Linked DNA regions of Homo sapiens. The protein of the gene in region 1 purifies or fractionates together with the protein of each later gene. This does not show direct contact. Each region holds a gene or a part of one and is shown on either strand. Other genes may lie near its edges.

Evidence for each region.
Region 2: the proteins of TAFA1 (region 1) and PLXNA1 purify together in Homo sapiens (affinity purification with mass spectrometry; one large-scale study listed by BioGRID and IntAct). This does not show direct contact.

Annotation. Positions count from the first base shown.
Region 1 is NC_000003.12:68,538,967-68,542,718, forward strand, and holds part of TAFA1 (chemokine-like protein TAFA-1 isoform 1 precursor), read left to right. Parts: intron 1-3,752.
Region 2 is NC_000003.12:127,017,615-127,021,429, reverse strand, and holds part of PLXNA1 (plexin-A1 precursor), read right to left. Parts: coding exon 3,766-3,815; intron 3,682-3,765; coding exon 3,538-3,681; intron 3,137-3,537; coding exon 2,902-3,136; intron 1,229-2,901; coding exon 1,086-1,228; intron 1-1,085. UniProt on the Homo sapiens protein: Coreceptor for SEMA3A, SEMA3C, SEMA3F and SEMA6D. Necessary for signaling by class 3 semaphorins and subsequent remodeling of the cytoskeleton. Plays a role in axon guidance, invasive growth and cell migration.

The DNA.
Region 1 (3,752 bases):
TTGCACAGGAGAGAAGATTCTCCACTGACAGAAAGCATTCTGAACTATGCAGATCAGTGTCCATCCGTGAATGAGACGTTAGAGATTGAACTTGACTTTCCCACACTGAGCAGTTTAGTGTTTCTGTCACAGACTCATAAATTAAGTTGGGTTTCCAGCCAGAGTGGAGAGGAATCATGAGGTAATTATTCGGATAATTCATCCAACATTTATAATGCTCAGAATGATAATCAAATGAACTTCCTCCCTAATTCATCCAGATGGTTTGCTGAAAGGGTCTGCGTTTAAGTACACCTACAGAAGCCATTTTCTAATGTTCTTTAAAAGAGTTCTGTGATGATCCGTCAGAGAACTGAAAAGGGTTTTGGGGAGTGAATACATCATTCTTTGATTTCTTTGGTTAAATCAGGAGTGATCTTCTAAATAAATAACAATCTTCAGGGTGGGGTAATCCAAACCATCAAAATTGGCACCCTTATGCTGGAGCAGGGCAGAAAGGCCCAGCTAGCTAGATATTAACCCTGTAGTTACTGGACAGCCTTGGAATCCTAAAGGGGACAGGGGTGGGAGATGCTCCGGATGCTTAAGATAGTAATTATATATCCACTAATAAAAAAGTATGTCTATTTGACAAGTGTGGTCATATGTATGTGTATCAATTGAGTATCAGCCCTGTTTCTCTCTCTCTTTGTCTCTCTCTGTGTGTGTGTGTGGGGGGGCATGGGGTGGGTGGGTGGGTGTGTGCATGTGTGTGGTGGGGGGAGGGGGTGCATGCCTGTGTGTGTTTTAATTTACAGGAATTTTTCTTGAGAGAGGGGGGTCTCACTCTGTTGCCCAGGCTGGAGTGAAGTGGTGTGATTATAGCCCACTGCAGCATCTAACTCCTAGCCTCAAGCTATCTTCCTGCTTCAGTCTCCCAAAATGCTGGGATTACAGGCCTGATCCACCATACCCAGCCTGTGGAGTATTTTTTAAAGCAAGCTCCATCGGTTACAAATCCCAGTATGCTGAAGTTTTATTCTACCAAAGGTCTGATGTATTTGAAAGGATGTCTCTGTTTCCCACCCCTTATTATTAATCTTGACTTACTCTTTCTTCTCAGCCTCACTTTTTCAGTGAATAAAATTGGTTCTTTCGTCTTTGTGATGCAGAAGACAAAACTAATGCTACATAATACTATATAAAACTTATTTTTCACATATAAAATAGGTGAAAACATCTTGTGTATCAAATTTCCTTGCCTTTTTTGACCCCCTTGACCAGTAGTAAATGGCTATACATTTCCGGCTTGCGACCAGGAGGAACCTCTGAACCACCCTAGCTTGCTAACATGCATCTGTCTGTGCCTGAGTAGCTTAATGTGGATTATCCTGTTTCATTTTAATGAAACACCTACAAAAGACATTATTCAGAAATAAGCCTGGTTCATGCAACTTATCCACAGAGACCATTTTAATTAACTAGTAGAAGGTGGGAAATCAGGTTTCCCTTTGGTTACCTTTTGCCTAAAACTGATTCTTCCCAATAATTTGAAGTTGCCCTCACAAATTGGTTTGTTTTAAGCTATTCTGAATTATGGCCAGTATGATTGGAATCTAACCACCTTTGTTTTAAACACATTGCTGATATATTTCCTGCCAAATCTCTTTTCTCTATTCTAAAGAACTGATTGCCTTTTATTGAAGGCAAGTCTTATTCTCATGGTGTCTCCAGACCTGAAACACAGTAAAGAAAAATAATTCAAGTCAGGATTTAAATATGTGAAATTCCAAGAGTACCAACTAGGAGACTCTTTGGAAGATAGAATATAAAACAAACAAAACAAAAAAACAGAAACATAGATTGTTAATGCTACTTTTTTGAGACCAATGTAACTTTCTTTTATTTGGCCTCTGTAGAGTACATTTTAAAACCATCAGGCATGTTGCAGATGCACCCTAGACATTTTCCAACAACACAGGAGTATTGTGCAGGATCTGATCACAGTACCAGAGACTGGAGCACACCATTTGCTACCTCCCTGGGTGGGCTGAATTCAACTCAAGCAGTTGAATGGATGAGATAAACAAACTGCCATTGCAGTCGGTTTGAAAGCAGAGGATGTACCTGTTCTGACGTATACATCCTTTTCAAGCAAGGAAATAGGAGGCCACTCTACAGCCATGTGAGCTGCACATCAGTCAGCTGAGAATTCTCAAGTCTGTCCTTAGAAAAGGAAAGAGAAGACACTGGAAAAGCTGTACTTTTTAAACCTTCAGAGGACTCAAATGCTCTTACTGACATACGTCCTCCCTCCTCCCTCCTTCTCAAGAAATTTGCAATGAAATAAGCACTTTTAAACACAAGGAGCACCAACTAAGTCCAGATGATGTATATAGGAACCATCTATTCTGTGTAAATGGTGTGTCAACGCCAGTCCTTAGATCATCTGCTCTGAAAATATGTTCTGTATTAATTTTTCTTCTACATCTTATGTATTCTTCTCCATCAGAGCACAAATATGCTTACTCACTTCAAATATTGATTCTAACAATTTAACTTTAAGAATGGTTTAATTCACAGATGTACTTTAATTATTATGAGTCACATGTTTTCATTGTTCTGCTGTTATCAAAGAGGTAAAAAAAAAAACAAAGAAATTTACCTCTTTTGTTCTTTTTTGTGTGAGAATAATTCAAAGACAGTTCACTCAGGATAAAAATAAAGTTGGGGAAACACACTCAGATTGTTAATAGCAACTGAGAGTTTCCTTCATACTGTTATTTTAAAAGTAACTTCAATATAAAGATAATCCAGGGAAAGGTTCCTGGGACTTCATTCTCTTTCCTATAAAAGACTGTTCCAAACCTTCATCTTTTGTAGGTTACTTCCAAAATAATCATCCTGAACAAAATTCTCTTCGAAATGTGGTTAAATAATGTTTCAAAGTCTGATCTAATTTAAAACTTTATGGTGTTCATTTTTTAAGGAAGGTGAAGAGTAGAAATGTGGTGGTTCATCTAAACTACCAGACACCCCAGAACGTCTGGAGTAGCCCAGGTAACAGGCCACAGTCTAAAGAAAAACCTCAGGAACAATGGATCTGAGTGATATTATTACCCCAGAAGGAAGGAGAAAATATAGGTGGAATTAGGCAAAGCCTTTTCTTTCAGGAGATTTGGAATAACTTTTTAAGAGAGGAAGACTCCTGGATGCCACCCTATAGAAAGGAAGTATTCACCTTGAAAGGTTTTCCAAGACCCAGCTTGGAGTAGAATAAATCTGGCAACACACACACTTCTGGGGAGAATCTCAGTACATCTGGGTGAAGTTTCATGGCCAAATTATTCCTCTGCGTCTGCTTGATCATTGCTTCAATTGCTTTATTAAATAGCTTTGTTGGTACTTAGGAGCAAGACTAACCAACCAAAATATTGACTAGAGATTTTATTCTTGCAGTTTTAGACACCTATTTATTTACGTCTTTTCTTTAAACTATATCAAATACGTAAGTTTGAAAGTTGGGGAGGCTCTATCCCATGTATTCAGATACATGTCTATACCTTTTATATTCAGGAACAATGGCTTAATTTAGAAAGACAGACTTCCCCTCAGAGATGTAAAACTGAAAAGTATCTGAGACAGGTCTTACTCAATTTAGAAAGTTTATTTGGCAAAGGTTATGAATGCATGACCTAGAGGTAGGTCTGTGCCTTTCTCCAGAGATGATTTTGAGGGTTTTAATATTTAAAGGGAAAAGGGTGGATATTGGG
Region 2 (3,815 bases), about 58 Mb from region 1:
GGCAATATGTTCCCTATTAGGCAGAGCCCAGAGGCCACCAGTGATACCAGGCTCCCAGCCAAGGCCAACAGGTATCAGGCAGACAGGTAATGGCCCAGGCAGAACATACACAGTCACAGCTGAGAGAGACAGTGTGACAGACACAGCAAATGGAGGCACTGAAAGAGAGATACAACCTGGGGAGGCTGTGTAGCCCCGTGTGGCAGCAAGCCCAGGAACAGGATGGCAGCACTCAGCCACAGGCAGCCCAGGGCCCAAGGCGGGAAGGTCTGCTCAGTATCAGCTCAAAAGGGACTTCCCACCAACAGAGTCACCACAAGGGACATGGGCTCCCCAACATCCAAGGCACACGGTTGGGGGGTGCCCTCAGCTGGAGAGTGTGACTGAGCTAACCTGCCGAGCCCCTGGCCGTGGCTCGCCAAGGACTGGCTCCTAGCCTGCCTGCCGCTGGGGGCCTTTTAGGGGTGTGGGAGCCAGCCCTCTTTTCCCTCGCCAGGCTCGCTGCCAAGGTCTACGGGGCAAAGCCCTACTCTCTGAGACCCTGGTGCTATGCCAGCCACATGCTCCCCTCCCAAACCGCCATAGCAGACTTCATCAGGCACCCGCACCTCCCAGCACACGGCCCCTGCCCAGCGAGGCTTCGCATCCAGAGCCACCCAGGAGACCAGGCCAGTGGAGCCGCAGGCGGGACCCCCAACAGAGGCAGGGCCCAAGGGGCAGCCACCGGGGAGGTGCCAGAAGCCCAGGCTGACAAGTGGTTTGCTGGGATGAGGCCTGGCATCCCACGGAGGCCCTGGGGCCAGAGCCTCCTCCTGCCCTCTGGAGGTACTTTATGGAGCAGAGCCGTGCTGGCCATTCCCCTGCCCCAACCCCAGGGCTCAGGGCTCCACTGTGCTTGCCTGGTCTTGGTTCTGCCTCCCAGCACCTGCTCCCCACTTGGCTGAGCCCAGAGCCCTGCAGGCCTGGACCCTCCCCCAGGCCACACAGGCTGCCCCATACCATCCATCAGCACCCAAGGAGCCTCAAAGGCAGAAGATAGCAGCTGCCTCTGAGTTCCTGTGACCCCCCGGAGCCAGTGGTCCTACCTCCATCTCCTTGAGCACAGGGTGGTCCTCGATCCCAGGAAAGAGCACCCGCATGGCATATGTCCGGTAGTCAAGGAAGGGGATGCCGGCACCGTCCAGGTCATTGGTCAGCTCGTGGATGTCTGTCTGCAGCTCTGCAAAGGCTGTGGCCAGATGCGGCGTCAGGGGCAGCATGCCCTGGTGGCCCCGCTCCATGCCCCAACCCTCCCACTCTTGGGGCCTACATCAAATCCTGGCTCTGACACTTACTGGTTTCGTGATCTTAAGGAAACTACTGTGCCTCTTCGTCCCCCAGCTACTACAGCCCTAGCACAGGGATAGTAACTCTCCTCTGCAAGGTTCCCACAGGATCAAGCAAGACAAGGGCAGAGAAAGCATCAGCACCAGGGGCAGGCTGGGCAGGGCCTCCTGCATCTCAGACACTGGCAGTTAAGCGTAGAGCAGCTTTGGAGTTCGGGCTCCTTCCACCCGCTGTGAGGTGGTGGAGTGCGGCCAGGGGTGAGGTCCCAGGGCTGCAGGCTGTCCCCAAGCCCCCACACCATTGCATGCACATCTCGGGCCTGGTGCACCCTCAACATGGCCCACCCTGCTCAGGGCCAGCTCTGCCTCTGTCAGGAACAAAGGCAGGCAGGCCCTGACAGAACATTCCAGAGCTGTGAGGTGTCAGTCCTGTGGCAGCCCGAGGATCAGGCTATCTGATCAGAAGCCAAAGGAGTGCCAGGCAGGCTCTGGGGGACATCTGACAGGTTTAATTAAGAGCTGGAGTCTTCGTCTCCTGGGCATCGCTGCCAGGCGTCTAGTTATCTGCACCTGGCTGGCCTGGAGCAGCCACCAGCCACTGCATCCACACACGCCAGCCTCGCCAGACAGCCAGCCTCAGCAGGCGGGAGCACAAGGGAGGTCCAGGCCACCTGCCTCCCACCTGGCCCCAACACACACCTGCCTCCAGTCCCACCAGGGCTGCCCAAGAGGTAGGGTGACCCTCAGCCCACCACAGGGCCACTTAGGTTTGTCTGGGACTGAGAGGGCTCCCAGGATGCAGAACTTTGCATTTTAAGACTGGCTGAGTCCTGTGCAAACAAAACACCCCATCCCAGTTGAGTCCCAGTGGAATTCATGACAACCCCATGCTGGACCACATGGCTAAGGTCCTACACTGCAGCAGGAACACTCCTAGTATCTGCCCCCTAGAGCCCTGAACATGTGTGAGTTACTATCTGCAAACGCTCAAAGTCTCGCCCGGCATGGAACAGATTTCTGCCACTCACACCTGCCCTGATCAGGAGCATGGTGTGGCATGACTCCCCCTATAGACATCTCAAGGACAAAGGTCAGCTCAGGCCAAGATCTCTATGTGCCCAGGGACTGCCAAAGCGCAAGGGCTCCCCATTGCTGCATGGTGGAAGCACCCCTCTCTGCTGCTCCGCTGGCACCAGCCAACCCACCACGACTCCCAGCACCCAGGGAAAGTAGGCACTGTCATTGTGCCCACTCTAGAGACGACAAGACTGAGCCACAGAAGGGTAAGTAGCCACCTTCAGCCTTATAGCCCAGCTGGGATACAAATGCAAACAGTCTGGCTTTGGGTTCTGTGTCGCAAGCAGCACCCCAAGGAGGTGGTACCTGCTGCAGGGCCAGGCCCTGGTCAGGCACCCGCCCACTGCCCTGGGACCAGCTCTGGCACAGCAAGGCTATCAGGAACATTGTAAACTGAGCTGAAGCAGGGTGGGGGCGGCGGTGGGAAGTAGGTGTGGGGACAGGCCAGGGCCTGGCTCGGAGGTGGCAGTTGCCCCAGTGAGCCCTGGCCCCAACAGACCTTCCTTGCATTCGAGGGCCACGCGGGACTCCAGGTTGTCCATCTGGAGCTGCAGCCGCTTGAGTGTGCGGTCAGCATCTCGTGACTTGCGCTTGTAGGCGATGAGCACAGCCACGATGACCAGCAGCAGGAGACCCCCGCCTCCGCCAATGCCCACAATGGCAGGCAGCGTCAGCAGGCTGTCCGAGTACACCTGCAGTGTCCCTGGCGAGAACTCGAAGCCACCTGCCCGCACCTGCCAGTGGGTGGAGGCCACTCAGGAGCTTCCCATGCTTTCCACAAAGCTTGGGAGCCCCTCCCGATGGGCAAGACCCACCCCCAACACCTGCCTGTGGGAAAGGTCCCACCGACAGGGGCACAGAGTGGTCACCAGGGTGGAGACACTGGGACCCAGGGCAGGCGCCTGGCCAGCCAGGGCACCACTGGCATGGCAAGGGCTCAGGGTGGGTAGGCAGTCTCGGGGGGCTCAAGGAGGTGGCAGGCTGAAGGCTACGGCAGGGCCTGCACTGGAGCCGGGCGCCCTCTGAGCTAGGGGTGAGTCTCGGGCAAGGTCAGAGCTGGGGCTGTGCTAGTGGGGCAGGGTCCACAGGTGGGGCATGGCTCTCCCAGCTCTGCACCCCCGGTGGACAGACGCACCGTGACCTTGTGCTGCCCAGTGAGGTTGGGCGCCTCGCACAGCAGTTGCGTCTCCGACACGGTGAGGGTACAGGGTGTGGAGCCGATGAGCACCGTGTAGTTGAGTCGGGAGTTGCCGGGTGCAGGTGGCAAGAGGTTCCGGCCCTGTAGGAGATGGGGGTGAGCCAGAGCCCAGGACGAGGGGCCTCTTCCCTGGCTTGGCCCAGCCTACGGGCAATGGTGACCCACCTTGAGGATGAGTGGGGAGCTGGGCTTCAGCTCCAGCAGGCCAGTGGGGC